Linked DNA regions of Homo sapiens: regions 2 and 3 are each reported to be linked to region 1. Evidence: microRNA targets listed by miRTarBase, many of them from high-throughput screens and not tested one by one. Region 1 holds a microRNA gene; each other region holds the end of a gene's coding sequence. Distances are between the middles of the regions.
What was found. The annotated mature microRNA hsa-miR-921 reads CUAGUGAGGGACAGAACCAGGAUUC and lies in region 1 at 5,148-5,172, shown strand. An mRNA with a match to its seed (bases 2 to 7 or 8) in the 3' UTR can be bound and repressed. Matches are read on the target gene's strand: a 7mer-m8 pairs with bases 2 to 8, a 7mer-A1 pairs with bases 2 to 7 and ends in A, and an 8mer does both.

Region 2: the mRNA of THOC2 is a reported target of hsa-miR-921. The part of its 3' UTR that is shown has no 7-base or 8-base seed match.
Region 3: miRTarBase lists ANGPTL1 as a target of hsa-miR-921. The part of its 3' UTR that is shown has no 7-base or 8-base seed match.

What each region holds. Positions count from the first base shown.
Region 1 is chr1:166,148,937-166,159,944 of GRCh38, reverse strand. It overlaps MIR921 (microRNA 921), which reads left to right and starts at 5,147; the gene lies at 5,147-5,202. All of the region lies in intron 1 of FAM78B (family with sequence similarity 78 member B), which reads left to right. RefSeq lists an enhancer at 9,724-9,893.
Region 2 is chrX:123,603,778-123,614,785 of GRCh38, reverse strand. THOC2 (THO complex subunit 2) reads left to right here. Exons shown (of 39, transcript NM_001081550.2): 34 at 597-734; 35 at 1,078-1,147; 36 at 1,230-1,387; 37 at 3,270-3,346; 38 at 3,823-3,868. The coding sequence ends at 3,850. It also overlaps the pseudogene FERP1. Among named protein-coding and RNA genes, the nearest start is that of THOC2, 120 kb to the left of the region's middle.
Region 3 is chr1:178,844,883-178,855,890 of GRCh38, reverse strand. ANGPTL1 (angiopoietin like 1) reads left to right here. Exons shown (of 6, transcript NM_004673.4): 4 at 2,104-2,297; 5 at 2,938-3,208; 6 at 4,575-6,356. The coding sequence ends at 4,762. The region is part of intron 8 of RALGPS2 (Ral GEF with PH domain and SH3 binding motif 2); the gene reads right to left. Among named protein-coding and RNA genes, the nearest start is that of ANGPTL1, 21 kb to the left of the region's middle.

The DNA.
Region 1 (11,008 bases):
TCCTGAGTGCCCTTGGAAGGGAGATGACCCTTTGCCTTTAATCTCCTCCATCTCTGCAAAAGAGGAGCAGCAGAGGATTAACTGGTCTTATCAGGGAAGCATTAAGCTCACTGGAGATAAAGCACAACTCTGGAGTCAAAGGAGGAGTTGGAGAGATAGGGGAGGAAACAAATGATTAGGGAAAGATGTAGAGGGGGAGAAACAAATGGGAAGTTAACAAATTGTGGCTTGTGTAGCCTGGGATATTAATCTGCATTCCAGGGCACTGGATGGGTTGGGGAAAGCAAGGACAGGAGATGGACTGTGAGGGCATCAGACTGCAAAGTATCAGTGACCTTCCACAGGCAGCAGGGACAAATGCTGTTTTAGGGGCAGGTCTGCAGAGGCATCATGTTCCAGGTTAAGGATGCAGACTGGCAAGTGAAAGGGAAATGCAAAGTCTGGTGTGGGGTGTGCAGTCCCAAATATCCCCTTTCCTTCTAATTCGTACTGCATTCTGATCTCATCTGACCCCCTCATCTGACCCTCTCATCTGATCCCCCTGGTTCTTGGGAACTAGGTACTATTGTCATGCTGATCTTACTGATGAGGAAACTGAGTCTCAGGGGGTTGGGTAACCTGCCTGAGGCCATACATCAAGTAAGTGGCCGAGCTGAGACTGCAAGCCATGTCTTCTGACCCTGTGTCCTGGCTTTCTATATACTGCCACAGTTTGGCCTGTGAGGGGGACAGGTCAGCCCTCCATTCATATCAGCACAAGAAAAGTTAGTAGTTATGGCCGCTGTTACTGTCATCATGCACCTAGCTCTTTTCCTCAAAGCTTCTTGCAAGGAAGCCTAGGGTTGCCCAAAGGCTCCAAGTAGTTGATAGCATGGCTTTCTTCTTACCCAGCTTCCTTCCCTGGACCACTTTGATCTACTGATAAGAAAAAGTTGTCACAGATAACAGAGGGGCCACAACTTCTGTTGTGTTAACACCAAGCAGGCCACAAGAAGTGGCTGTCATTTATAAGTTGGTTATTATGGACTCCTTTGAGAAGATAAATAACAGGAAATTAGCAGTAGCAGAGCATCCTGGTGAATACTTACAAAGAAGCAGAGTCCTCGTGGTGCTGAGGGTCCGTGGAAGGGATTGGTGCCTGCCTGCACACCAGCAGCAGAACTGCCCACAGAGTGGGATATTCCCCCACAGAGGCAGAGTCATCAGGCAAGTTGCCTCTTATTCTCACTAATCCAAATCAGTGTGGTATTTAAGGATGGTTCTAGAGTTGTTGTTGTTGTTTTGGGTTTTAGTGAAGAAGGTGTGAGTGTGCCTGTGCCAGGAGAGTTGTCCAGATCGAGGAACGTCTGGAGATGCTGTTTGGGAAGGAAAAGAAAGAGAAGGGAAATAACACACGTGAAAGGTCTATGTGCCCGGCACTGTGCAGGGTGCTTTCCATGCATGGCCTCATTGAAATCTTACCCAGTGAGGGAAGTTATCCTATTGTGAGGTCCAGGGATGCTCAGTAGCTAGCTCAAGGCCTCATGGCCAGCAAGGAGCCGTGCCAGGAGTCTAGCTCATGTGCTCTGACTACTCTGGTTCTTTTTAAAAATTATTTATTTATTTATCTATCCGTCTATTTGAGATAAGTCTTGCTCTGTTACCCAGGCTGGAGTGCAGTGGCACAATCACAGCTCATTGCAGCCTGGATCCCCTGGGCCCAAGTGATTCTCCCACCTCAGCCTCCCGAGTAGTTGGGACCACAGTCATGTACCACCACACCTGACTAGTATTCTGTTTCTAATAGATGATGGCCTTATCTCCCAGGAAGGGGGTTCTCTGAACTTGCTTTGCAAAATAGTGATAATGGACCTAGCTTTATTGGTTTTCTCTGATTTCTGTATTTCCTCACTCCTTTGGAAACAGAGTAAGTTGCTCTGAGATCATGTGTGTGAACCTCCTTGCATTCCCCTTGAGAATGGCATTGGTGGTTAGCTGTAAGAGCCATATCTTTGTGAGGGGCCAGGAGTAAAGACAGCAGGGAATAAGCTCCTTTCATGCTGAGGAGCACATTCCTTGGGAGCAGGGGGACGACATCCTCAGTTCTCGGGCTGCAAGCTGGTTGGTCTGGGCTGTAGCTTTTAGCCGTGTGCCTACACCTTCAGGCCCTAATGGGCAGCCCTGGGCCCCAGCAGACAGTCACCCAGACTACCCAGGTACTGGATATGGATAGCTATTCATCCCTCAAACTCTCCGGGCAGTTGCTGTTCGGGTGGATGATTAGGAAGAGAAGGAGAACAAGGATTCCCATCTGGTGGTGGAAGGGACCCCTGGCTTTGTCATCAGCTCATTGGACATACCTCTGGCTCCCAAGAATTCCTGCACTGTTCCTTTTCTCGAGGCCCATGTGGACCCTGCTCCCTCATTAGGTTCTGGGGTACATGCCAGTTGGAACTGTTCACTGTGCCAGTGGAAGATTTAGCTGCTGGTTCCCCAGCGCAGGGTTCCAGTCAGAAGATCTGGGTCCCAGTGCCAGCTGCATGACCTTTGGCAGGTCCCTTAATAAGCCAGCATCTAGTTTGCCTGTACATAAATGGACAGTAATAAGATCTCCCCATCCTAATGCCATACGGATTAGGAATCAACACTTGTGATTTTTGTTATTACAGAGCATGCTCGTTATTATTGCTAGAGGATGACTGTGGATCAGCCTTAAGGAACAGGGAGGTTGTGGCTGTGGCCCTGCAACTTCCCTGGACAGAGAAGCATTCAGACTCTGGAGAGGGGTCTCTGGCATGTCAGCTATACAAACCTCCCCTACAAACCCACTCAAAGATAGAGGGGAGGAGAAAGGCTTGCTCTGTACATCTGGAGCCAGGGCTGTTTTCTGTTCAAACTCAGAGGAAGGCATTGGAGCCCCCCCCCCCCCTCCGCCGCCCCCTTGACGTCATGTCACTCAGAAGTCACCCTCCTTGTTCTCCTCTAAGCTGTAGACTTTGGGAAGCCTCCAGGACCCTGGCTGCTCCTAATCCCTAGGCATGATGCCTGCAGCCTAGCCACATCCTTATGGGGACTTCCTGTCCTATCCCTGAGCCCTTCTTTGGTAACAGTATCACTCAGGCTGGGGGAAGGAGCTACAGTTTGTCCAAGCCAAGGACTTGAGGGTGGGGTGATGCTGGAGCATGTGAGCCATGCTGTTCATGCTCAGGAAGGTTGTGCAATTTCCACCTTAGGGGGACAGTGAGACCAACACCTGAAATCATTTGTGTCCAAAGCTATTTTTAAGGTACTTTATTCTTTGCAGGTCCCTTTCATGATTTTTGTTTTCTTTATAAGGGGACCTCTCATAATTAACCTCACAATAATCATGAAACATGTAGGACAACAGTTATTCCTATTTCAGATAAGCAAGCTGAGGCCTAAGGAGATTAAATTATGTGCCCAAGGTCATCCTGGCAAGCACTGGTAGACTCAGGCCTGATGCTCAGGCATCCCACCTCCTCTCCCAGTGCCCTCCATACTGAGTCCATGATCAGCCAACCAAGAATGGGAGTCAGGGATGGGAGAGGTCATCCTCAGAGCCATGTGCATTGGGCACCTCTGGCTCAGACAGCATGTGGACACTTTTAAGGGCATCATTTATGATGTCTGAAGACAAGAGAGGGTAAACAGGACCACCTAAATGTCTTCAACAAGCGCAAAGAGAAATTTTCAGGCTGTCAGATTAAAACAAGATAAATAAGGCCATTTTGTTATTAAAACAAAATAAAGGATGGCACATCAACAGGGTCACTGTGCGAGGCCTGCCTCGCAAAGCCTCTGGCTGGCTCCTGCTCCTGGGGCCTGACCTTTCAGAGCTGGCTGGTGGGCCTGTGTCCGGCACAGGCTCTCAGAGGCTGTTAGAGGCCTGGCTAATGGGAAGCGGTAAATCGGCATCCGCAGTCAGCACTTTCTGCAGCATCCCGAAGGAGCAGGCAGAGGCTTCTGGGGCATGTGTGGCGGCAGGTACAGGCTTTGGCAAGTCCAAGAGCTGCCAGAAACAGGCAAATTAGATGTTGCTTTGCCCTCTGCATGGGGGCTCAGGCTGGGATATGTAGGGGAAGAGAGGCGTGAAGGGAATCAGACATGCCCGTTCTGTGAGAGCAGGATCTTACTTACCTTCTATTCCCTCTCCCGAGACCACACACGCTGAGCCTCCATTCCAAAATGGCAGTCCCCACACCTGAGCTGGGCAAATCAATTCAAGAATAGATTTTTTGTTATCACTTAATGATTTGAGAATCTGTTTCAAGCTTCCACGAACCATCTTCACTTTCTTTAGGAAGGATGAGTGATTTGTGCCACAAACTAACCCCCAACCTCCTGTTGAAGTTATTTTCTTGACGTTCAGAACCAAGGAGCCTGTCTTTTGCTAAGAAACCTGCACACACTGAGTGATGGGCAGCTATGTGCTCGTCTGTCTCCCCGTGAAACCATGAGCAACTTACTCAACTTGATGATGATAACAACTAGTGTGTGCCAGATGCTTTAGATGCACTGTCTGTAAAGTAGGTAGCACCATTATTTTCCTCATATTAGAGATGAAACGGAGGCCTACAGCGGTCGGATAACATGCCCAGCATTACTCAGCTAAGTAGTGCCAGAGCCAGATTTAGAAAGCAGGTCAAACTAATTCCTGTGACTCCTTATGATGTTGTACTGCCTCATAAGGGTTGAATGAATGAATGTCCAAATGAATGAATGATCAGGAAGTATTCAGGATATTGCTTGAGTGTTTGCTTTCGTCCTTGCTGAGGAGACTTGGGAAACAAAAGGTTTAAATCAAATTGGAAATGACTAGTCTCCTTGCCTCCCAGCTGCCTGGTTCACTCAGCTGCTCAGGATGTGATAGTAATGAAACCAGGGTCTTGGGATCAGACCCAGGGGACCATCCCAGCACCAGAGGCAGTCCTCTGTCCTTTCAGCTACCTCACAGGTGACTGTTACCAGCTACCAGTCACAGCAGGGTCTTGATTAAAGAGTAGAGAAATGGCCAGAAGAATGCAAGTGGTAGATCAACAGAATCATTTTTAACTTACAGGGTGTTAGGATGGTGCGGGAAATCATCTAGCTCATTTGCTTCTTTTACAGATGGGGACGCTGAAGCCCAGAAAAGGGCAGTGCCACAACTAGTGAGGGACAGAACCAGGATTCAGACTCAGGTCCATGGGCCTGGATCACTGGCTAATTCTGTGGGTCAGGGCTGGAGGCACCCAGCACACCTAGTCTTCAAAGCAGCAGTCAGTGGTCACCTCCCCCTGTTTTTTCATCACTGCCTGCCCCTGCCCCCCAGCCAGGTTTGCTGAGGGTCCAGGTCTTCAGGCAGAGATGGCCACCTGCCCAGGAAAGGAAAGTGCACAGGGTGCAGGAAGAATCCATCCCTTGGCAGCACAGAGAGGAACTCACATCAGCCCAAGGGATGTCTACACAGTTGCCAGGAGCAGAGAGTCCAGCCTGTTTTCAGTGTCTATATGCAGTGATTAGCAAGCAAGAAAGAAGAGGGTCTCCCCAGAGACACCTGTCACAGATGGCAGGAGATGGGAGGGCTTGGCAGCCCAAGGGAAGGGGAAAGTATGGAGAAATTGAGATTTAGCCGGGATTCCCAACAACCCAGAATCCCTTTCTTCCACCCCTCAATACCCCCCTTACCCTAGCCCTGGTGCTGATGGCATGCATGGCCCTCCTGGCCCCTACCCACACACAGGCAAGGTATCTTCCTAGCCCCTGGCAGCTCTAGAAGAAATAAGATCCAAGTAGCGTCAAAGATGACAGATTGTGAGGGGGCCAGGGGCCCTCCCCTGACAGCAGGGCTCAGCTGGGAGGCCTCTGTGGAGCAGAACAGATGGGAGAAGTCTGAGAGGGATATCCTAGCAGCCTGGAGACCCTGTCTCTGTTGTGGCTTTTAGTTGGTTTCAGTCAATTCTTTTGTCATTGTTTTGTTTTATTGAGGCATTTCAGCATAGGGGCATGATCAAATGGTGCTGTGTCTGCTCACCCTAAAGGAGGTGGGGTTGGGGAAGAATGGGAGGGAACAGGTCTAGGCAACACCCCATTTTGCTTTGCCCTTGTTGGGATCTAAGGGGGGTATAGAGGGAGGACTGCAGAGGGAGACGAGTATATACCTCCGAGCATCCTGCCATCACTGCCTGCCTGGCTTACTCTAAAGCTGTAGTTTCTGTACCACTCCACACTTCCTGTCATGAGGACTCTGGGAATCCAGGGCGATGTCATGTGGTCCACCTCCCCCTTACATAGTCCTGTTGCAGCCTGGCCCTCCTTCTCTAAGCTTGCACTGGGACCAGGCTTCTACCCTCCCTGGAGACCTGCGTAGAGGAGGAGGCATCCTCATGTTTCTTGGGCTATGTGGACCCTTCACTGTTGTCCTGCCTGCCTGGCATGTCCTGTTCCAAGTCCTATAACTCACAGGGCTCCTGCCTGTCTGATCGATTGGCCCTGCTGCCTGATTCTCAGTATTTGTTGCCAGGTTCCTGCCTGCCTTTGAACTACTTGTTCATCTTTGTGTCCATCCCAAGTTCTACCGGCTTGGTTTCTGACCCTCTGCTTGTCTTGGGATAGTCACTCTTTCAAGCTGCAGGGCTTTAGCCAGATGCCCTTCCCCAGACCCCTGGATCCCCCCACTTCTCATTGACTCCCTGACTTGTGCTCCCCCTCTCTCTCTGGAGAGATAAATATGGAAGGAGCCACAGCTGGAAGAGCAAAGCTGTTCTCCACCCTTGGAGCAGAACCATTCACCCTTCTCTTGGGAGCCCATGAGTCACTCTGTCTTCCACGTTGCCTCCAAGCCTGGCTGGGCGTCTACTTTCATCTCATGAGTGGGTTTCCAAAAACCATGGATGATCTTTATAAAGAAAATTACTTGTGATCTAAAGGGGCAACTCAGCTAGAGTTCTGGATGTCTGGTGAGGAAGCTGGGAACAGTTAAAACCAGAGTACCAGCTGGGCGCACTCACGCCTGTAATCCCAGCACTTTGGGAGGCCAAGGCAGGCAGATCATGAGGTCAAGAAATCGAGACCATCCTGGCCAACATGGTGAAACCTCGTCTGTACTAAAAATACAAAAATTAGCTGGGTGTGGTGGCGTGCACCTGTAGTTCCAGCTACTTGGGAGGCTGAGGCAGGAGAATCTCTTGAACCCAGGAGGTGGAGGTTGCAGTGAGCAGAGATCACGCCACTGCACTCCAGCCTGGTGACAGAGCGAGATTCCATCAATAAATAAATAAATAAATAAATAAATAAATAAATAAATAAATCCAGAGTACCAAGAACTTCCCCTGAGCATGTGGGGTTTGGAATCCAGGGAGAGGGCACAGGTTAAAGGGGGATTGATTCAACAAGTGTCCGGGGCCAGTTCATCCACAGCAAGTCTGCAGCAGAGAGGGAGTATGAAAGAAGCTTAAGCACATGGTTGTCCTCTGGGCAAGCATCTTAAAGGCCTGGATATCAAGAGTAGATCCTAAAATACGGAAAAGAGAACAATTAATGGGGTGCAGACAGGGCCAAGGGAAGCTATGGTGGGCCTAGTTTCTCACGACAAGACCAGACAAATTCTTGACCTTTGGTCCTGCCGCATCCCGCCAGCGTGGAACTGAAAGGCCCGGGCAAGGTTAGCAGCTGCTCCCATCCCTATCCCTGACACCTGAGAACAACAACCACCACGGGCTTCTCTGCTGCAAAGCTCCCTGGGGTAACATCTCCAGCTGGATGGCTGAGCAGATGGCTTTAGCTAGAAGATTCCAGAGAGGGGAGGAGCTAGGAACACTGAAGGGCCCTTTATAGCCTCGGTGGACATCCTCCTCTCTGGCCAGTGCCTGGGCTGCTGGGATTCTAAAATGTCTTTGAGAAAATTTGTCTTTTCAGAACCTGTATCTGACAGAGACTCTAGATAATCTGGGTACCTGTGGGGTTGCGTAATCACAATTGAAAAGTCTTTCAGAGATGGGACTGTTGTATAATTAGGCTGAGAGTTGGGCCCGGGGTAAAGTTAAGTACTGGTATGGATTTAGTGCTAATGGGCTCATTCCTTCTACTGGGCCGTCAAAGTTGAACAGTAGGGGAGAGGTAGCATTTGTCTACATGATAAAGTTTTTGCGGAAACCCTATCTGTTGAACTTGAACCTTGGGATCTGTACATAGTTACTTTTTCATGAAGCAGCTAATTCTCTTTAGCCGAATGGTTGAACAGTTGAGTGGGTCTGGCACTTGAAGCAGAGACATTTGGGTACAGCTCCTACTGAGGAGTATTTGTGAACACCTGGAAGCTAAGATGGTTTCTTGTCCACTTACATCTGGCCATGGTTTCTGTGGCTGTATCAATGACTTCAGATTGAGGGATCCTAGGCCAACAATTGGACAAACTCACTGCTGAGCCAAGAAAAGCAGGATGCTTCTGGATCAGAACCCAGGAATGTTTAGGGCTTTATTCTAAGAGGGAGAGTCTTCCTTGGATGCTGGGAGGGTTTTTTCAAGATTTACCTTCAACATCTGGTGCTTCCTGAAACGTCTGGTCATCAGAATTAGAATCTAGAATTATACCCTAGTACTTAACGACTTTCCACTAAAAGGAAAATCTTGGAATGTTTTCATGCCATCCTCAAAAAGCAAAAACATTGAAGAAATGTTCTATCAGAAATGCCCCTGGTTAAACTGAAGCAGAGTAACCAGAGAGAAAGAAGTGGACGAGACAGTCAGATTGTCTTCATTGAGACATTTCAAAAGCACAGGCCAATTTACAGGGTAGCATTGAACTCTTGAGCTATTACAAGTCTACGTGCATTTGTTTCCAGTCTCAAGTGTTCAAATTCTTCTCTGATGCCATCCTCTATAACCCAGCACAGAACTGAGGTGAATCTCTCTGCAAGCTCCTTGGCAAAAATCAACTTCTATACCAGATTAAAACCCCAGTTCTGGGTCATACCATCCAACTTCTAAACATTTCTGATTTACCTCTATTATATATTTTAATTTTTTTTATTTTTTAAATATAGGTAGAGACAAGTTCTCACTGTGTTGCTCAGGCTAGTCTCAAACTCCTGGGCTCAGGTAATCCTGCCTCAGCCTCCCAAAGTGCTGGCATTACAGGCATGAGCCCCTGCACCCAGCCTGCTTCTATGTATACTTTAAAAGAATGTGTATTTCTTGTTGTCCATAAGATCCCATTTGCTAGTTGTATTGTACAAATGTTCTATATTCTTGGTAATTTTTATGTTTGATCTATCATTTGAGAAGAATGATAGAAATTTGTGTATGAAATTTGTGTTGAAATTTGTGTATGCTAGTGTGGTCGTAACTCTTTTTGCAGTTTTTTCACATTTTACTTTGTACATTTTGAGGATGAGGCTGCTTACCTCTTGAGTTGTGGGCTTCCTCTTCATTTTTGACCCCTAGGAATTTATTTTTGCAAATTCAACTGTGTATTCAAGAAGAAACTTGCAATGTAGGAGTTTTTCAGGAGATTTAGTCTATTATGATTTACTTACTATATTCTTCTGTTCCTCAATTATAGAGAAAAGTAAGCTTTTCATGTCTCCTTTTTCTGGTTTGAATGACTGTCTTTCAAAGCAAGCTGCCTATCTAGGCAAGGCTCTTTGATAAAAAGAACTGAGGTTTCTTTTTACTTAGCACTCCACTGTTAGGGGTGAAGGGGGAGCCAAGGCACTGGGAGGGTTTGGGTCTAAGGCCAAGGACAAGAGAGTCCAGCACGTTGTCCCACTGTGCACTAGGCACAACCACCTGGGGTATACTGCTGCCTCAGCAGACCCAGTTTCTCTGAGATGCATTCCTCAGACATCACAAACCCCCCCTGAGGCACAGCCATCCTCATTGTCCCTATGCAGTATCAGAGTCCGAAGTAGCTAGCTCCAGGTTTCTCTGCACCTGTTCCCTGACCTTACCCCCAAGGCTCACTTTGCACTAGCATTTGGCTTCTGGCAGGCAGGAAGCTTGTTGCTTTCTTCTCTTCCAGGTGGCTCTAGGAAGGACCAGCAGAGGGAAGGGAGGTGGGAGAGGAGACCAAGAGGCAAAGCAGTCATTTGGAAGGTGCAGCCAGCAACCCCCAAGAAGGCACACATGCCTAGTATCACCCTGCACTCAGCAGGCTGACACTCTCCAGAGGTGGGGATGGAGCATGGGGATTCCCTGTGTGGAGGTATTCTACGATATGGAGCTCAAGGTGGTTGGGGCCATATAAACCTTGAATGTAATGAAAAAGGCTAGGCTTGAACTTTAATGTTTACAAAAATGCTTCCATGTATGTTACTCCTATTGAGCCTCACACTCAACTTTTAGAGATGGTATTATTGTTCTCCATGTAATGAGAGAAAACCAAGGCTCTGCATGCTGAACTGATTCAGCAGGTTTACGTGGTTAGGAGGTGGCCACACTTGCCATCCAATTCCAAATTGATTACTCCCTTTAAGTAGCTGATACTGGAAAAGGGGAAAGTGATAGAACTTCTGAAGCTGAAAAGACCTTGGAGATCCCAGTCTTCTTCCTTGACTTTACAGGTGAGAAGACATGTAAAAAGAGGTAAAAAGGAATTGCCCAAGCTCATACAAAAAGCTAAGAAATCCTCAAAGGATGGAGTTTAAGATATCTGTTTTCTATAACAGTTCAATTCAGTGAATGTAATTTTTTGTTTGTTTGTTTGTTTGTTTGTTTGTTTAATTATACTTTAAGTTTTAGGGTACATGTGCGATTCCTCAGGGATCTAGAACTAGAAATACCATTTGACCCAGCCATCCCATTACTGGGTATATACCCAAAGGACTATAAATCATGCTGCTATAAAGACACATGCACACGTATGTTTATTGCGGCATTATTCACAATAGCAAAGACTTGGAACCAACCCAAATGTCCAACAATGATAGACTGGATTAAGAAAATGTGGCACATATACACCATGGAATACTATGCAGCCATAAAAAATGATGAGTTCATGTCCTTTGTAGGGACAAGGATGAAATTGGAA
Region 2 (11,008 bases), not on the chromosome of region 1:
TTGATAGAAATTGGAGTGCTTTCAGAAGTAGAGAACATGCAGCCTTTACATTTGTAAAAATAATTTGAGATAATCTTTGCATGGTTCACACTGAGGCAGAAAAGAATTATTAGCAAAATCATAGCTAGGTTTTATTTTTATACTTTTGCCCATTGCCATTATTGACTGCCTATCGGTGGATGGTAAGACTATTTAAAATTTCCATGATTGTGTAGAGGTGTTTTTTTCTTTTTCTTTTTTTTTTTAAACAGTAGAGAAACTCCAGTCACTATTGTTCATATATGGACTCTTGTAATGGTGGTTATAGGTCTTTACAATAGAGCTATAAGGAATACTCTAGCTTGTGAATTTACTAATGAGTCTCAGTTGAGGCACAAATGAACTGATGGAGTTTAAATGGTGATTTTTATAAGGCCAAGAATTGAAGCCTTTGTATAATTTGTGCCATGCCCTTTTATTTTACCTCTTGTAATCCAGATAGCTGACCAGTTTTTACTTTGGGTATAATTCCCAATTGTGTTTCATTTAGTAAACAAACAAGTGATGCCAATACTGGAAAACTAATAATCTTTAGTAATATTGCCTTAATTTAACAGCTCTACATTAATCATACTCCTCCACCACTGTCCAAGAGTAAGGAGAGAGAAATGGACAAGAAAGATTTGGACAAGTCAAGGGAAAGATCCAGAGAAAGAGAGAAAAAAGATGAAAAGGACAGGAAAGAGCGGAAAAGGGTTTGTAAAATTTTTTTTAAACTAGTTTGGAAAGCTCATTATCATGTACACCAGTGTGTATGTTGCCTTTTAAAAAATACTAGTTTGTTCCATAGTAGTCTGTTATTTCATGATTTTATTGATATTTTTACCCTGAAGTGTTTGCATTTTCTACGTTAATAAGGATCTTCAGCCTAGTAATCTCTGTCAGCTCTGCTTGTCTTTCATGCCATTTTACCAAGTATGTGAAACTACTGCAAATACTCTCCATTGCTAGTTAGCTGTGCCCTTCTCATATAAAAGTAATACTTTAAAACAAAAACAGAAGCCCTTGGTCAATGTAGTTCACAATTCTTGGTTCTAGGATCACTCAAACAACGACCGTGAAGTGCCACCGGACTTAACCAAGAGACGTAAAGAGGAGAATGGAACAAGTAGGTAGACTTATTCATATCTTTGAAGATATCATCGAAGTGAATTGGAAAAGGCTTTCATGATTTTCTTTTGTAATTTTAGTGGGGGTTTCAAAACATAAAAGTGAAAGTCCTTGTGAATCTCCTTATCCAAATGAGAAAGACAAGGAAAAAAATAAGTCAAAATCTTCAGGCAAAGAAAAAGGCAGTGATTCATTTAAATCTGAGAAGATGGATAAAATCTCCTCCGGTGGCAAAAAGGTAAATTAGGAAAATAAAGGAATAATATGCTTTATCTTAAAAAAATCAATCCTGAAAATTTAGCAAATATTGAATTTTTTTCCTAGTCCTATAGTCTTTTGTTCATTATTTAGGAGTGGGAAGAAGAGGTATTGAGGGAGGGCATTCCGTTTGGGGAATTTGAGTCAGTTCAGTCCCAGATTACCAGGAGGGTAGAGTTAGTATACCTCTGAGATTCCTTTCCCCTCTCCATTCCATTCCCACCTACTTCTGTTGATTGAGTTTCAGCTGTTCTTTGCATTTTCTTTTTTCTCCACCAACTCTTTGCTTTTAGTTTCTCTTTATTCCTGAGATTAAAATATGGTCACATGTATTCTCTCTGACCATCATAGCATCATAAAGTCTTGATTGTGATTTGAAACATTTTTGTAACGTTTTCTCCTAATAAACTCATTTGTTTGATACTTGTATTTGATTTAAAAATTGAGTATAAGATACATTCTCTTACATATTAATGGTTGATATTTAAAGTGAATCTCACGCATCTGCCATAAAGTAATAAGCAAGCCATTACTAAAGTATAAATTGTTTCCAAAACATTGTTATATATATTGAAAATATATGCCATTTATTCATAGTTCATAAAAACAGCTCTAGAAAATTATATAATGAACATTTTAATTCTATGCTTTAAAAGATAGGCTGTTCTTTTAGGTGTTTTTTAATTGAGGTAAAATTCAAATAACATAAAATTAATCATTTTACAGGTGTACATTTAAGTGACATTTAGTATATTCACAGTATTGTGTAATCATCTCTATCTAGTTCCAAAACATTTTTATCACCTCCAAGAGAAAACTCTATACCCATTTAAACAGTCACTCCCATTTCCCCTTCTCAGCCCCTGGGAACCATAAATCTGTTTTCTTTATGGATTCACTCATTCTGAATATTTTATATAAATGAAATAGTACAATAATGTGCCCTTTTGTGTCTGATGTCTTTCACTTAGCATAATGTTTTTGAAGTTCTTCCATGTTGTAGCATGTGTCATTTACTTCATTTCTTTTTATAGCTAAGTAATATTTCATTATATGAATATACCACATTTGTTTATCCATTTTTCAGTTGATGGACTTTTGAATTGTTTCCACGTTTTGGCTATTGTGAATAGTGCTGCTGTGAACATTTGTGTGGGGCTATAAGTATTTGTTCAAACACCTATTTTTAATTATCTTGGATATATGCCCAAGAATGGAATTTCTGGGTTATATGGTAATTCTATGTTTAACTTTTTGAGGAACCACCAAAATCTTTTAGACAGTGGCTGTACAGTTTACATTTCTACCAACAAAGTATCAGAGTGCAGATTTCTCTACATCTTTGTCAACACTGGTTATTTTCTGTTTTTGTTTTTTATTATAGCCATTCCAGTAAGTGTGAAGTGGTGTCTCATTGTGGTTTTGATTTGCATTTTCTTAATAACTAATGATGCTGAACATCTTTTCATGTGCTTATTGGCCATTTGTTTATCTTTCAAGAAATCTGTTCAGATACCTTGACCATTTTTTATTTTGAGGGTTTGTGTTTTTGTTGCTCAGTTGTAAGAGTTCTTTATGTACTTTGGATACTAGATCCTTATGAGATAGGTGATTTGCAAATTTTTTCTCCAGTTCTATAGGTTGTCTTTTCACTTTCTTGATAGTGTTCTTTGATGCATGAATGTTTTTACTTTTGATGAAGTTCAATGTATCTATTTTTTTCCTTTTGTTGCTTATGCTTTTGGTGTCATGTTAAGTAAGTTTTTGAAGACAAATATAGCTCGCGGGTGATGAAAAGGGGTTTTGAGCTGGCTTTTATATTTGGCTTTCCCTTCCCCAGCTAATTCTACTATTTCTTATAGGAGTCCAGGCATGATAAAGAAAAGATAGAAAAGAAAGAGAAACGGGACAGTTCAGGAGGAAAGGAAGAGAAGAAACAATATCCTTTTCATTTTGATGTTTTCAGTTAGTGTAGTAGAAAGCTTTGATACTGGTCATGTTTACAATTGTACTCTTTTAGTATGTGGTTTATATGCTTAAGGGCTGATTAGTTTTGAAATGGTCTTTCCAGTTAACTCTCAAAATGTGTGAAATCTGGAAGTGGGATACTTGATGTTCTTGATATTTAAAAATACTTCTGTGGTGACTGAGATGTTTTATGCCACTAAGGGATTTATAGTCTTTCAGGTTATATTATCACAGAGAGGAAGAAAGGGAACAGAGAGTCCCTAGGGCTGGGGACATTGGGAATAGAAGGGCAAAATGATGAGTCAGACAAGCAGAGCTGGTAGAGTTTGAGGCTACCAGGCTGGTCAGAGCCCATTTAGGCCTGCAACCTGAGGTGCTGTACTAAAAGGGGAGATGCTGTTCTTTCCGCCATTCCCAAAAGTTGTTTTCCCTTAATTTGTCATCTACTCATAAGTCCTCGGACAAGCACAGATAATGAAGACTTTCCATCAAGGTGAGTGTTCTCTCACCACCTTTTCACTTAATGATAGAAACATAAAATGAGTTCTGATAATGTTGAAAAACTAGATGCATTTTACAAGCTACAACTACTTGTTTTTTTCACCTAAATATAACGACCAAGTCTTCGGGTATAGATGCAAAACAAGATTCAGAGTTATTTTTAAGCTGTTTTCATTTTAAGCTTGCTGATTAGCCACACATTTTTTTTTTAAGCACCAAGATATATTTAAGAACATCTGGCTTTCTCTTCACCACTTATTCCCATCTTCTCTGGATAATTAATTATGTTTTTAAAGTCCTTATTGCCTTGTAAATGGTGGTAGTGGTATCTGCATTTTATAAGTGAAGAAACAGACTCTGAGAGGTTAAGTTGAAGAGGGTCATAAAGATATTAGTCAACAGAGCCAGTTGACTATCCTCAGTCTTTCTATCCTTTAGTGTTCTCTGTTCCTTTTGCTTTCTCATGCTGATGTCTTATCCAAAGATTTTTAAGTTTTCGTGCCATTTTTTTTTTTTTTACCACTGCCCATGTTTTGCAACAGAAAATATGGTCTGTGTTTTTAGTTCTGGAATTTACAATGTGTAACTTTTTTTTTCTTTTTTTTTCTTTTTTTAGGTAATGCACTTAATGCTTTATGTGAGATTTAAAAAGTATTTTACCCATCTTAAATAAATTGTGTTTCCATCATAGTGGATACAGTGTTCAGACCCTAACATCGCCTTTTTTGAGCACTTAAGATAATCTGAATAGTTACTGTTTGGTGATGCCTTAGTATTATTGAAGTACGTAGGACAATTTGCCCCCTAAATGTAATGGTTCCAGACAGCTGTGTTTTGAGGCTGTTGATTCTGCCTTTATTTTTTTATTTTTATTTTTTTTTGAGACAGAGTCTCACTCTGTCGCCCAGGCTGGAGTGCAGTGGCGCGATCTCAGCTCACTGCAACCTCTGCCGCCCAGGTCCAAGCGATTCTCCTGCCTCAGCCTCCTGAGTAGCTGGGATTAGAGGCGCCTGCCACCGCGCCCGGCTAATTTTTGTATTTTTAGTAGAGATGGGGTTTCACCATGTTGGCTAGGCTGGTCTTGAACTCTTGACCTCGTGATCCACCTGCCTCAGCCTCCCGAAGTGCTGGGATTACATGTGTGAGCCACTGTGCCTGGCCGACTCTGCTTTTTTATAGCCCGTTTTCTTGCTTCCATGTTAGCCATCATTTCTTAATATATTAAGTATACTTGCTTTTCTATACTTCGTTAATATATTAATTAATTAAGTATCCTTGCTTGTCTATACCTCCCCCCTAATATTATTGGATGCTTCTAATCTTTTATGAGACCAGATAGATAACCAAGGCTGTTTACCAGTGTTTAAATTACAAGTGAGAAATGTCTGAGAGCCAGTTCTGTATAAGGGTATGGGCTTAAAGGTATGGATTTTGTCATCTTTATTTTGGCTGCAAAGCAGGGATTCGAGAGGTTGCCTTATAGTCAACACATGATGAATGGTGTGCTTTTCCTGCTTTTTTGGTGCTTGCTATGTAAGTAGATTAGGGTAAAGTAGGGTAAATGAGAGTTATAAAAGAACATTTCGAATTTAATAGATTTAAAAGGAAATATTACTGCTAATTCTTCAATTCTAGCTGCTCCTACCCCCATCCCAACCTTACAACTATCTTCTCTGGTGAGCCATAAACTCTTAATCCTCATTTTAACCTTTCTTTTAATCTGGCATTTTGCTGTCACATGTGGTCTCCCTATTAAAAGAAAAACAAAAAGCCCACCTTTCATATCTTCATGAGGAATGAGCCAGCCATTGTCACTGACAACTTTCACAGTGATTTTATATATCTCTGTTTACTCAGTACCCAAATATTATTCTTTTGTATGTGAAGGTTATGCTACAGATTTGAGTTTTTCTTGCACTGACCATGAATTTGTATTTTACCCCTCTGTGTAATCTCTTAGGAACAAAGGGATGACAAAACTGGTCAGGGTTAGATATTTGGCTCGTGGTCTTATAGCAAAACTTCTAGATTCAGATGTTCTTTTAAAAGTATGTCTAGCTGGATGTCCATCCTGTTGAATTCCTCATTGACAACTTTGTACGATACTTTCTTCTTGGGTAGACTCTTAATTTTGTGAGACTCTGGTTGATAGTTTCTTTTCTTTTGAGACAAAGAAGTCTCGCTGTTTTGCCCAGGCTGGAGTGTAATGGTGCGATCTTGGATCACTGCAACCTCTGCCTTCCAGGTGATTCTCCTGGTGATTCTTCAAGAGATTCTCCTGCCTCATCCTCCTGAGTAGCTGGGATTACAGGCACGCACCACCATACCTGGCTAATTTTTGTATTTTTAGTAGAGACAAGGTTTCACCATGTTGGCCAGGCTGGTCTTGAACTCCTGACCTCAGGTGATCCACCTGCCTTGGCCTCCCAAAGTGCTGGGATTACAGGTCTGAGCCACTGTGCTGGGCCATCTGGCTGATAGTTTCTTTTTTTTTTTGTTTGTTTGTTTTGAGATGGAGTCTCACTCTGTCGCCCAGGCTGGAGTGCAATGGTGCAATCTTGGTTCACTGCAATCTCTACCTCTCGGGTTCAAGCGATTCTCCTGCCTCACCCTCCCTAGTAGTTGGGACTACAAGCACGTGCCACCACGCCTGGCTAATTTTTGTATTTTTAGTAGAGACGGGGTTTCACAATGTTGGCCAGGCTGGTCTTGAACTCCTGACCTCAGGTGATCCACCTGCCTCGGCCTCCCAAAGTGCTGGCATTACAGACGTGAGCCACTGTACCTGGCCGATAGTTTATTTTAAAACAAAAAAAAATTTTAAATGGAAACGGGGTTTCGCCATGTTGCCCAGGCTGGTCTGAAACTCCTGGACTCAAGCCATCTGCTTGACTTGGTCTCCCAATGTGCTGGGATTGTAGGCATGAGCTGCCATGCCTGGCTGATAGTTTCTTTTTCTGGCTGTTGACTGCTACTTTCTATTTGGATACATTCCAGGGTTGGTCAGGTCTGTTTTTCTTCCTTTTCTTTAAGAATGTTATCATATCTGATTGGAACCGTCTATTTACAGGCTACTTTGAAATCTGCTGCCCTCCCCCACTCACCTTTTATTTTCTATTCTATAGAAAGGACAGCTCTTACATATGTCATATTTCCATGATTGAAAGATGTCGTTACTTGTAAGATTTCATTATTGTTTTTAGAACAGTTTTTTTAAGGAGGGTTGGTAGAGAAATGACAGTGATTTGTAAGTATCATCCTGATTTTCACAAACATTAAAATAATCACATTAGAATTAAGATACAAGGCCAGGCATGGTGGCTCATGCCTGTAATCCTAACACTGTAGGAGGCTGAGGCAAGAGGATTGCTTGAGGCCAGGAATTTGAGATCAGCCTGGGCAACATAGTGAGACCCCATTTCTAATAAATAAATAAATAAATAAATAAATAAATAAATAAATAAAACTTAGCTAGGCATGGTAGTATGCACCTGTAGTACCAGCTCCTTGAGAGTCTGAGGCAGGAGGATTTCCTGAGCACAGGAGTTCGAGGCTGCAGTAAGTCATGATTATGCCACTGCACTCCAGCATGGGTGACAGAGCAAGACTCTGTCTCTTAAGAATTAAGAAGATAACAGTATATAAATATGACCATAATTAAATTCCTTCCAGTCTTCTGTCATCTTTTCTCGTCTTCTGTTTTTGGTTGCAAAACTCTGTTCCTTCTCTGCATCTTCTGTTGCCCTTAAAGTCTTTGTACAAATTCATCTTGCCTCTCCTTGATTTAGTCTCTTGAAGATTACTAGTTCCTTTGCCTTTAACCTTCCTTCCTACTTTAACTTTTTTTTTTTTAATTCCTGCTTATAAAATTGTCCTCTGAGAACCACCACCCTTTGGCTTCTCAATTTTAACTTGATATATGTGATCCTCAACTCAGGGATGTTGAGTTCAGCAAACTTTTGAAAGTCCTTTTGTGAACCAAATGCTGTGCTAAGCTGACATTTGCTCCCAGGCCTTGAGATACTCAGTCTCCTTGCTTTTTATTATTTTGGATGTAGGACTTTGATTTTAAAGAACATTAGCAGTTAGCACTACTTATTCATAATCTGTATTTTTAATCTACTACATTCCTATTCTAATCCTCCATTCCAAGAAGGCCAAATATATTTGCAGGTCCATTCCTTCCAGTCTCACATGTGTAACCTAATTTTTATCCTCTAAATCCTACGTTGCAAATTATCAGCCCTTGGGCAGAATGTGGGATGTTAAATGTACTTTATTTTATTTTTCATTTCATTTCATTTCATTTCATTTTTGAGACAGAGTCTCTCTCTGTCACCCATGCTGGAGTGCAGTGGTGCGATCTTGGCTCACTGCAACCTCTACCCCCTGGGTTCAAGCGATTCTCATGCCTCAGTCTCCCGAGTAGCTGGGATTACAGGCATGTGCCACCATGCCTGGCTAATTTTTTTGTATTTTCAGTATAGACGGGGTTTCACCACGTTGGCCAGGCTGGTCTCAAACTCCTGACCTCAAGTGAACCGCCCTCCTTGGCCTCCCAAAATGCTGGGATTACAGGTGTGAGCCACCACGCCCGGCCTGTCTTTCTTTCTTTCTTTCTTTTTTTTTTTTTTTGTAGAGACGAGGTCTCACTATATTGCCCAGGCTGGTATTGAACTCATGGGCTCAAGTAATCCTCCTGCCTCTGCCTCTCAAAGTGGTACGATTACACATGTGAGCCACCACCGCCAGCAAAATGCACCTTCTTAACCTCACACAATATTTCAAAATTTTAAAAATCTGTTTGTTTTTAAAAATCAGAATTGACAAAATCCAAATTTCAGTTTTTCTTGAAGGATTGGAACATCTGGTAACATTGTGTTCTGATTTCTGCATAGCATCATTATGTCCTGATTTCAGCTAGACTTGTCTAGGTGCTGCCCCCCTTTAGAATAGAGCAAGGGCCTTTTTAAAAACAGTTCACCTCCGTCAGTCCCCACTCAGCTCGTTTCTTTTGTTTTCATCACGTTCTTGGCCTTTGTAGACAATTGATTTTGTAATTCCAGCTCTAAGCCTTTTTTTGTTTGTTTGTTTTCCCTTCAGTTCATACTTGGAAACTGACCTCCTAAGCTCCTGAAGATTTCTTGTTTTAGGAATGCATTGCCATTCTGAGGCTTATTCCTAGATGTTGACGATAGGTATTGGTAAAGGGTATGGGATAGGGAACTCATCAATGTTCACATTGATGCCAGAGAAACATTTAATATCTCTGTATAAGTGCAACATTGACTTTTTTTGCCACCAAACACACCATTTTATAGGAAGGGAACCTATACTGATTAAAAGAGCTTGCTTATTTGCTGCAGCATATTTTTTGAGGGCAGATTTAATATGCTCTCATTTTGGTCTGTATGTAGTAACCATTAAATGTATACTAGACTCTTGTAAGGAGCTTGAAATGACAGACACAAATCATTTCTGTCTTCATTATCAACTTTTATACTTAAAAAAAATACTGAGTATAGGTTTTGTGCACTGATATTCATAGGCATGAAAAGTTGAAGAGGGCAGGAGAAATTTTCTATTTCCTTGCTCTTCCACTTACGGTAGAGCAAATATTCATTTATATGCTGTTTTTTAAAATTTTGACATGGGCATGAGCACTTATAAAAGGCTTCCATACAACATTTGCCCTGAGTGTGTCTTTCCCCTACACACATAATTATCCTGAAAAGCATCCCTGGGTGCAGTTAAGTTTCAGCTCAACAGAATCCACGTCTTAACTCTGTTACATTTTATCCACGTGGAACATCTCAGGAACTCTGTTTGCTATAAAGAATTCCTAGGTTGCAGTATAAGGGTAAATGAAGGAGTAAAGTGGATTTAGGATGGCTGTCCCCATGTCTTTCTCATAACTTCTTTCTTCCTTATAAATATTTGTTTGACTTTTTAAATGTCAAGTTCATCTTTATATGCCTTTCTACCTGGGGTTTATGTGAAAAGAACGAGAGAATGAGAATAAAATCCTGACAGTTTCAGACACTAGTAAAAATGCATGGAATGCAGTTCTGGGATGCTTCCTGTGAAGTGAAGACACTTAACCAAAAATAATATATTATTTTGGTGGGCTTGATTTTATAGTTTCTCTTAAAAATTGTTTGGTTGCCATCCAGAGGGCTCTTTTATGAAGAATCTATATAAACTACTAAAACATTTCTTAGGACCTTTTTGGTGAATTTGATCATAAAATTAAAAAGCGTGTATGTGTTTTATAAAGGCATACCTCTGTTAAGAAGGCTGGTTTTATGTTTGCCTTTTCTTCTCTACTTTGATCACCACCCTAGCTGTTCCTTTCTCCAGACCACCTTACTTTTCAAACTTGATTCTTGCTATCACAGCTCTCTGTAACATCAGTTAAAATCAGCTGCCTCAACTCTTTGAGGATGTTTGTGCATAGGACGGCATTGTGAAACATAGGGAAATGGCAGTCTTACTAACAAAACAGGACCTATCTCTGGCCAAAAAGAAAAAAAAAAAACAAACAACTCAGGAGGTCCAGATAATTACCAATATAAAATGGCGTTCACACATATAATCTTGTCTCAGCAGAGTAGGAAGGCCATCTTCTGTTGAGATGTGTCCTACAAATGTGGTATGTGATATTACCAATACAGCTTATAGCACCAATAGGTGTCTGTGATGGAGAACAGCAGACTATGAACTGAGCCTGGAGTAGAAAATTTTTGAGAAGCAGCAACAGTCCTAGATGTGAAAAAGATAGATCTGTGTGATCCCTTACATTCAGAACTTACACTTTCTTATTTACAATGGTTAAAGCAGTACATATTAAAAAATAGTTAATAAAACACTTAGGAGAATGTTGCAGGTAATGTGGTATAAATGTTAATAAGAAGAAAAATACTGCTTTGCTGAAAATAGAGTCCTGAAGGCTGAGTTTGGCACTGCTTCATCACTATGCAACTTTCTTCTTGATGACAGCTAGCTCTTTCTGAAGTTCAGTAAACTTGGGGGCAGTTTTCAAGTTTGTAATCCTAACACCTCAGCATTATTTTATTAAAATACTCTGTGGACACTGCCAAGAGACTGACATCCAGTATCTTCTTTCCACTTG
Region 3 (11,008 bases), 13 Mb from region 1:
CCTATCATCATCTCAATAGGCAGATAAAAAGCCTTTGATTCCTGTGATGTGTCTAGTTAGAAAAGAAATTAAAAAAGAAAAGATTTTAAAAGCCTTTGAAAAAATCCAAAATCCATTCATGATAAAAACTCTCAGCAAACTTGGAACTGAAAGGACAATAATTTTAAAGTAGTGGTTGTAGCTATTTTCAATGTCTTAAAGGAAAATATGTTTATAACGAATGCAAAGATAGGGCATCTCAAAAGAGAAATAAAAACTATAAAAAATCAAATTGCAACTCTAGAACTAAAAAATACAATACCTAAAATAAATATAACGCAGGAAAGACACCATAAATAAGGCTTTCCAGTTTCTCAAATTTTTACTAGTCTGTACTACTTATGGATATTGCATTATAATTTTTAAAAATTTAAGAGAAAAATATCAATGAACTATAATAAACATTTGGACTAGAGAAACTGATGTCCTCTTGATTTTTGCGTGTACTTTTCAATTTCCTTGTATTTAAAATGAGAAATTTAATCAACAAAAAATTATAGACAGTTTCCTAAGGGTTTAAACACTGATGATATGAAGTAAAAAAAAAAAAAAAAAGTCTCTGTCCTCACGGAACAATCTACAAGGAAGAGATCATAGTCTCTAAGAATCCCTTCTATTGTTATAGTTGTGTAACTACCTAATGAGATTAATTCTATCCCAGTAAGACCCAAAAGGAATACTGTACATATCTGGCAAAGTATAGATAACACATTTCTCAAAATTTCAACAATCCTATTATCCTTATAGTACAGAAATTCTTGTTAAGAACTTTACTTGACTAAACTCTCACATATTTCTAGTAAAATATAAAATTTGACAATCAGAATTTTTATACATTTTTTGTTCTAAGAGATCTTTAGGGTAATTCTTTTTTCTAAATCCATTAATATATTTTGCATGTTTATAAAAAAGGCTCGAAACACTGGAGAAGGATGATATTCACCTGATCCAAAAATGTGGAAATCTCAAGTTCAAGAGTCAGACACCCTAAAAGTAATTTCACAAAATGTGTTGTCACTTGTAAAATTTGAAGAAATTATTAGTGGATTAAAAATGGAGAATACCTAAAATTATGAAATAACATGAGGGCAAATGCATGCAACACAGCAGTTCAGAGCAGGGACTCTGGGATTAGACAAGGATTTATGTCTATCTAGGGTTTACCATCTTCTGTGATACATGACCTTAGTTAATCGTTCTATCTCTAGAACATCTATCAACTATCACCAGGTAACTGTAGGTTAAATGAGAAAATTACTATTAGTCATACAGATTGATACAACTCTTTAGATACTCATTTATGCTAACATTCCTGAAATGTATTCTCATGGGCTGTTAGTAAGTGTTGTTGGGGGAAATTTAAGATTCTATGAGTTTGGGCATCTGGTTTATTTCAGGGCTTTTCAGTCTTTAATATGTGAATGTACATTGAGAATTTCCAAAAGGGAAACATAATATTTTGCATTTCTAAAACTTATTTGACTGACCCCATTTGCAATGAGTATCTCAAGGTACTAGTATGTTCCACTGAAATCAAATTTCCAAAACTGTAACTTGGGTATTATGTAGGACTATGAATAAACTGATATCCTCTGATCCAGTAGATCGATCCCTCAGCATTTTTATAATATTAAAAAATGAATTCAATAAGAATGAAGACACTTTGTGCAGTGTTTTTATAATAGCAAAAATCCATAAAACCTCAATGTCCAATGATAGAAGGATAAAAATATATCAATGTCAAGGATTATTATGCAGCTAGAATGGAGACTATAGCTGCATGAAAATGTTAAGACAGAATCCAATTTTCTACATGTATTAGGATTATAACAATATAAAAAATACATATATGGAAAAGAAAAGAACAGATGAAAACGAAACAAATTAATGTTCCAGATAGAACTGGAGTCACCCTTTTATTTAGTTATATTTTATAATATTGTATATATGATAAACAATGGTAACTGTAAACAAAGACACAAAGGTAAAAATCTTGATTAAAAACTTTTAACATGTCTCTTCTCATATTAAGTTTGCTGATAATAAATGATATTTAAATTATAGGACCATTCAAAGACTGTCAGCAAGCAAAAGAAGCTGGGCATTCGGTCAGTGGGATTTATATGATTAAACCTGAAAACAGCAATGGACCAATGCAGTTATGGTGTGAAAACAGTTTGGACCCTGGGGGTTGGACTGTTATTCAGAAAAGAACAGACGGCTCTGTCAACTTCTTCAGAAATTGGGAAAATTATAAGGTAAATCAGTGATGCAGACCTAAGGGAAGTAAAACAAATCCATTCTTGCAATAATGCAAGAAACAAGATGCTATGCAATAAATAAGACACACAGTTAAAAATAACTATCCATATGTTTTTTCATTATCTACATCTGTCAAAAAAATGATTCTCATCTCTGGTTTTAAAGTCAAAATTAAATTGCAAAAAGGAAACAGAAGATATACTTTTAAATGATCCCTTTCAGTCTGGATGACTTATACTTACTACTTTACAAAGATTACTATTAGGAAAAAAATGTTGGGCTCTTTAGATGAATATGAGAGAGACCAGGAACCCTTTTTAAGGATCTGGGTAGTATACTAGCTAATATTTTTAGTAGCTATGGATAAATTTTATTCTCATTTGCATTGTCTTATTTGTAGGATTTGAAGCTAGCTATGCAAATGAATACTGACATATCAGAAGCAAAAAACAAACAAACAAAAAGAGAATGACAATGTGTGGCTTATAAAACGCAAGTGACCAACTAAAATGGAAGCTCACATTACCACTTAAATGGCCAGTATCTTTATGCTATCGAATGTTTAACACTGCTCTGTAAAAATGTTTACTATCTCTATACTTATTTATGCACTCATGTTTCTTCACTTATTAACAGAAAGGGTTTGGAAACATTGACGGAGAATACTGGCTTGGACTGGAAAATATCTATATGCTTAGCAATCAAGATAATTACAAGTTATTGATTGAATTAGAAGACTGGAGTGATAAAAAAGTCTATGCAGAATACAGCAGCTTTCGTCTGGAACCTGAAAGTGAATTCTATAGACTGCGCCTGGGAACTTACCAGGGAAATGCAGGGGATTCTATGATGTGGCATAATGGTAAACAATTCACCACACTGGACAGAGATAAAGATATGTATGCAGGTAAGTATGAAAAACTTTCATTCTTTGTAGAATCATCACCTTCTATGCATTAAATAGAATCTACTAATATATATGCTACTAAAGTCTTTTCAAAAAGGTCAGTTTTGGTCACTGTGGCAGGAAATACAACCAACCTACTGAAAGAAATAGCTTTTAGGATTTCTTCTATAAGGCAATCCCAAAGTGTGATCTATGTGAAAAACAAAGTTCTGGGAAAAAAACACAAAGCAAAACAGAAACACATTAATCTGGAAATAAAATGCAAGTGCCTACAATTCATAACAAATACTAACTGAACACCTACCACGTGCCAGGCACTGTTGTAGGTGCTAGGGATATAACAGTGAACAAAGTTCCCGCCCTTTGGAGCTTACTCACTGGAGGAGAGACAAAACAATTTGTTAGGTGGGAATAAGTACTCTCAAAAATAAAACTGAGTAAGAAAATAGAAAGTGGTGGGCAGCAAGGCCTGGGATGGCAGCTATTTTATATGGGTTCGCCAGGAAAATCTGCTGTGAGAAAGCAACATTTGAATAAAGAGTCGCAAGAAATGAAGGATGCAAGCCATTTGGATACATGGTGTAAGAGCATTTCTTTGAGGGGGAAAACCAAGATGACTGTGACATGTGGCATAGGAATAACAAAAAAGCTTGATTCAAAGGGGAAATTAATATTTTCATTAGAAAGAAACAACTAGACCATCCACATAATTTCAAATTTAGTTTTCATATGCTTTTGACTTTTTAACCCAGGTTTCTTCTCGTCCTGATACAGAGATCCCCTCCTCCCCTCCACCCAACAATTCTCCCCCATCCCTGTCCCAAACTGGTTTTTCTCTCCAGCTGTATTTTGGCAAACAGCACACAGGTCTCTATTTTAACCAATTTTACACTGGTAAACGAGAAAAGAGGAGAGATAGACCATAACATATGTCTTATTTACAGAAACCCATTTGACTGCTGGTTTTATTTTACTTTGTATTATTTTTTGCTATTTTATTTTGACAATTCAATTTTCCTCAGACTTTTATCTTCTTCTGTATCTTTCCTTCCCAATTTCTCCCTCTGTAACTCTTTCACATATAAACACTGCTTGCATCTACTCTGCTAACTAGAAAATTAAATCCCCCTTTTTAAAAAAGTACATTGTAAGCAAGCAAAGAGTTAAAAAAAGGCAATTCAAGTGATTTTTCAAGCAGTTGATGCAACAGCCATCAAGTAAGTGAAGGCATTTAAAACTGCTGAGATAAAGGTAACTGGGATTAGTAAGGGAAGTTCAAATTAAAGGTAGAATAAGTTTTTTATGATTGCAGAGTACCACACCTAGAAGAAACTTTTACATTTATATCTGTATTTTTTCCTCAAAGGAAACTGCGCCCACTTTCATAAAGGAGGCTGGTGGTACAATGCCTGTGCACATTCTAACCTAAATGGAGTATGGTACAGAGGAGGCCATTACAGAAGCAAGCACCAAGATGGAATTTTCTGGGCCGAATACAGAGGCGGGTCATACTCCTTAAGAGCAGTTCAGATGATGATCAAGCCTATTGACTGAAGAGAGACACTCGCCAATTTAAATGACACAGAACTTTGTACTTTTCAGCTCTTAAAAATGTAAATGTTACATGTATATTACTTGGCACAATTTATTTCTACACAGAAAGTTTTTAAAATGAATTTTACCGTAACTATAAAAGGGAACCTATAAATGTAGTTTCATCTGTCGTCAATTACTGCAGAAAATTATGTGTATCCACAACCTAGTTATTTTAAAAATTATGTTGACTAAATACAAAGTTTGTTTTCTAAAATGTAAATATTTGCCACAATGTAAAGCAAATCTTAGCTATATTTTAAATCATAAATAACATGTTCAAGATACTTAACAATTTATTTAAAATCTAAGATTGCTCTAACGTCTAGTGAAAAAAATATTTTTAAAATTTCAGCCAAATAATGCATTTTATTTATAAAAATACAGACAGAAAATTAGGGAGAAACCTCTAGTTTTGCCAATAGAAAATGCTTCTTCCATTGAATAAAAGTTATTTCAAATTGAATTTGTGCCTTTCACACGTAATGATTAAATCTGAATTCTTAATAATATATCCTATGCTGATTTTCCCAAAACATGACCCATAGTATTAAATACATATCATTTTTAAAAATAAAAAAAAACCCAAAAATAATGCATGCATAATTTAAATGGTCAATTTATAAAGACAAATCTATGAATGAATTTTTCAGTGTTATCTTCATATGATATGCTGAACACCAAAATCTCCAGAAATGCATTTTATGTAGTTCTAAAATCAGCAAAATATTGGTATTACAAAAATGCAGAATATTTAGTGTGCTACAGATCTGAATTATAGTTCTAATTTATTATTACTTTTTTTCTAATTTACTGATCTTACTACTACAAAGAAAAAAAAACCCAACCAATCTGCAATTCAAATCAGAAAGTTTGGACAGCTTTACAAGTATTAGTGCATGCTCAGAACAGGTGGGACTAAAACAAACTCAAGGAACTGTTGGCTGTTTTCCCGATACTGAGAATTCAACAGCTCCAGAGCAGAAGCCACAGGGGCATAGCTTAGTCCAAACTGCTAATTTCATTTTACAGTGTATGTAACGCTTAGTCTCACAGTGTCTTTAACTCATCTTTGCAATCAACAACTTTACTAGTGACTTTCTGGAACAATTTCCTTTCAGGAATACATATTCACTGCTTAGAGGTGACCTTGCCTTAATATATTTGTGAAGTTAAAATTTTAAAGATAGCTCATGAAACTTTTGCTTAAGCAAAAAGAAAACCTCGAATTGAAATGTGTGAGGCAAACTATGCATGGGAATAGCTTAATGTGAAGATAATCATTTGGACAACTCAAATCCATCAACATGACCAATGTTTTTCATCTGCCACATCTCAAAATAAAACTTCTGGTGAAACAAATTAAACAAAATATCCAAACCTCATAGTGGTATTATTCTTTGTTTTACCTGTGGTCATCTTAAACTGGTTTTTCAGTCCCTCTCCACTTCCTTCAGAACCAAAGAATCTGTTATAAGATTCCTGGAAGGAACTGGGCATCTAACTGTTACACCAAATCTTAAGTGAATAAAACTTTACCAAGGCTTCTCAGTTATTGAAAGCAGTATATCATTTCATTTAAACACCCAAAACTTTATCAAAGACAAGCCTTACAGAATTTTCACAGAAGAATATCATTAAAACTAGAATTTGAAAGTCAACATACAACCTTGGAAAACTAGGCTGAATGCTAAACTGCCTTAGCCAATGGGCCCATTCTGCTCTCCTTCAGAGAGCTGATTTATTTTACTCTGAAGTTCCTAGACAGCATAATAACTTGGGCAACTAAGTTTCTTGAGAGGAGAGAATAAGAAGCGGTATTATATGATAGTTAGTGTAGGTTCTGAAGTCAGAACTGCTTGGGTCTGTGGCCCAGCTCTACCACTTGCTAGCTGTGTTACCTTGAGCAATTTATAAACTCCTATCTCAGCCTGAATCTATAAAATGGGGTATAATAAGAATATCTAGCTCGTGGTTTTTGTGACGATCAAATAAATGAGTTAATACAGGTAAAACATTAAGAATAATGCTTGACATTCGTAAGTACTCAGATTTAAACTATCATATTATTACTACTCATCTACGTACTTTCTGCAATACAAATCATAGCACCTTGCATAGAGTAGGTGATCAACAAACGTGTTTTAAAAACAATATCCGGGCCAGGCGTGGTGGCTCACATCTGTAATCCCAAGACTTTGGGAGGCCGAAGCAGGTGGATCACTTGAGCTCAGGAGTTTGAGACCAGCCTGGCCGACATGGTGAAACCCCATCTCTACTGAAAACACAAAAATTAGCCAGATGTGGCACATGCCTGTAAACCCAGCTACTCGGGAGGCTGAGGCAGAAGAATTGCTTGCAGTGGGCCGAGATTATGCCACTGCACTCGAGCCTGGGGGACAGAGTTAGACTCTTTCTCAAAAAACAAAACAATATCCAAGTTTTCGGGTATGAAATTACATTGATCCATTATCTTCACTTGCAAATCTAACAAAGCCATGACAGCTGTTATAGTAGGCAGTTAAGTGGCTGGACCAAAAATAAAAAGAAAACTTAAGGCAAGAAGAGACATAGTATGAATTTCAGCCTAAAGAGAGTCTTGTGAAAGACCAGGTTAGCTCATTTGTGTGGTAGGTAAGGTCCAAGAGCTACCTACTTTGCAGGTCATCTAGGAATAAAGATGGGTTTGCCTTATCTTCAGTAAGACTGAACTACAACCTTCTCTTAGAGCTGGTTTATAGAAGGATTCTTTTACTTAATTTTTCTTTTTGTTTTTTTTTAGACAGGGTCCCACTATGTCACCCAGGCTGGAGTGCAGTGGCATGATCTTAGCTCACTGTAATCTTGAACTCCTGGGCTCAAACAATCCTCCCACCTTAGCCTCCTGAGTAGCTGGGACTACAGGTGCATGCCACCATGCCCAGCTAATTTTCGTATTTTCTTTGTAGAGATGGGGTCTCACTGTGTTGCCCAGGTTGGTCTCAAACTCCTGGCCTCAAGTGATCCTCCCACCTTGGCCTCCCTAAGCACTGGGATTACAGGTGTGAGCCACTGTGTCCAGTCAAGAATAAGTTAATGAATTTTATCCTACAACAGATATAGACTCTATTCTGGACTAAATGGGAGGCCATCATTGCCTAGAACACCTGACCTCCTGAAGCAGATTTTAAAAATTTGAGATTTTGGAAAATGCCAAAATTAGACAGCAACTTGAAATTTAGTAGACACCTACAAATACACTATCTCTGGGCTTCATGCCTCGTAGAATAAAGATCAATTTTCATTCTACTGTTTACTTAACTCTGAGTCATGACAGGAGAGTGCTATTCTCTTAGCATTATATTTCTTAGGACTCCTGCTGGTAATATAAGCAGCAGAATAAACCTTCCACAATCATAAAAACATTTTAAATAACTTATAAATCTGTACTAAAGTAATATGGTTTACATATATTTAAATTAATCTTTGTAGTAAGTTAAAGATTATTATACCCTAACAAGTTTTTAGTCTTTTTATTCTAGTGTCTGTGAAAAATAACCAAGTAAGAAAACAATGATTCCACTTACAAGGCTATGACCTCGCCCTGAAAAAATGGCCATCTTATCTTAAACTAGCTCACTTTTCAGTTTTTTTTTTTCTTTTTGAGACAGAGTTTTGCTCTTGTTGCCCATGCTGAAGTGCAATGGCACAATCTCGGCTCACTGCAACCTCTGCCTCCCGGGTTCAAGTGATTCTCCTGCCTCAGCCTCCCCAGTAGCTGGGATTACAGGCGCCCACCACCACACCCAGCTAATTTTTGTATTTTCAGTAGAGATGGGGTTTCACCAAATTGGCCAGGCTAGTCTCGAACTCCTGACCTCAGGTGATCCGCCTGCTTTGGCCTCCCAAAGTGCTGGGATTACAGGCATGAGCCACCATGCCCGGCCACTTTTTAGTTTTATCAGTGGAGTTAACTGTTATCAAGTTATAATTGTACACATAATTACAGGAAAGACTGATGAATGAACTCAAAATTTTAACCTGAACACAGATACCCCAAATTTTAATGTAATCCATAATGCTTTCTTTGAGCTGTGAATGAAATACGTATCTTTACAGCAAGTCAATTTAAACTCCTTTGTCTCAGTTTCTTCACCTGTAAAATACAAGTATCATTTACCTTATAAAACTGCTGTTATGTATTAGATAATCTATATAAAGTACAGTGTCAGCTATATAGGCCTAAGTGTTGAATAAATGTTACTGAAATTATTACTTTCCTGCTAAAGCCTGCTTAAAAAAATTACAAAACAAATCACTGAAATATTCACAGTTGGAAACACCACTGGTAAAACTGTTGTTAGGGGAATCTGATTCTGTTTACAATTAGCATGCAGATCTGTATAGCTGCTGTTCTTATTTTTTTAGAAAGACAAGGCACTTAAAGAAAACACTATGAACATGGGGATGAAATTAACACAACCCCACCCCCAGCTCTTTTATTTCAGAAGTCTTTGGTCTAAAGTAAACTTCAGAAAACATATCAACAAAGAATTTAGAGGAATTTTAAATATATAAAAGAGTGAGGGTAAAAAAATATATAAATGAGGTAATGGAAAATGGGGATGTAATTCTGGCTAAAGAAAAGGGGCTAGCTGCCATTTGGTCAGAGCTTATTCTCAAATCCAAAAGAAAATCAGTGAAGATGCTTTACTGCTGTTTTAGTATACAATATATAACAACATATAATTAAAAGAATAGGGTAAGGTAATCCATAATGTATATTATTGACAAATCAAACTAAAGAAAGGAAAATGGAATAAAACTTGAAATATTAAAAGCCAATGACATTTATTGACCAACAGGCATTTCTGAGATCAGTGTCAGAGCCTTACATATTGAAGAAAAATTCTATCAAACGAGAGGAAAAATCTCCTTTTAATTCCTACAGATCAGCAAAAAGACTTGGACTTTGTTGAAATTATCTGAATAGAAATATGAATACAAAACTATTATTCTTGAAAACATTTTTACATGAGTTAGAAATTTCTAAAACTAAATAACTATATTCTACTGAATATTTAACAATTCAATATATGCAAAAACGACTGAAAACCAAATCGGTAAGATTCTTATCATTTTAGGTATGCTTTAAAAATGTCATTAACTATGATAAGGACACCACTAACAATGTAAGGCACAAGGCAATGATATGCATCTCTTCCAGGATATAGAAAAGAGGAGAGATTATTCATGAGGTTAATGATATCCTGGACCTTTGTAATTCCAGAGATATTAAGTTCTATAAAGGCAGGGACAAAGCCCATTGTAATCTCTTGCTATATATTTAGCACCAAGCACAGTGCTAAGTAAATACTAGGTGCCAGCTGAGGCACCAAAAACAAAACAAAATAACAACAACAAAAAAAATCAGGGGTGGGTAAGGAGTTGACCCATGCAAATATGCCACACAAATACATTTATTGTTTAAACAGAAATTAAATCAAAATCACTGAAACAATGGGAAGAGCTAGAAAGGGATAATTAGTTGAACCAAGAAACATTTATTATATGACTACTTTTGTTCTAGATGCTGTAAGGATAAACCCTTAAACCAAGACAAATAGGGGCTTACATTCTGTTGAGGAGGAGACAGATTAATGAAAATATCATAAACAGGGTGCTTTTCAGAGAGCAGTAGGCAAGGAACACTATATTACAGAGGGTTATAAGAAAAGTATTTCTCTTCTAACAAAAAAGTACTATCATGAAAACCTGACATATTAAATTAAAAATTAAATGGGGAAGGGGAAGAAGTCTCTCTCCAACAGGAAAAAGGAGTCATATCTAGATCCACCAAAAGAGTATACTCACATTCTACAGAGGGCTAGAGATTTTACAAAAACTTTTCTGTTACATTCTGCTTCTACTTAATAGGAAGCAGTACAGAGTACTGCAACAATTTACTGATTTCCACAGTTCAAAAAATATGGTTTTTTTTTTTTTTTTGAGATGGAGTCTTGCTCTGTCACCCAAGCTGGAGTGGGAATACAGGCGTGTGCCACCACACCCAGCTAATTTTTTGTATTTTTTAGTAGAGACGTGGTTTTGCCATGTTGGCCAGGCTGGTCTCGAACTCCTGACCTCAGGTGATCCACCTGCCTCAGCCTCCCAAAGTGCTAGGATGACAGGCATGAACCACCGCACCTAGCCAAAATATGCTTTCTT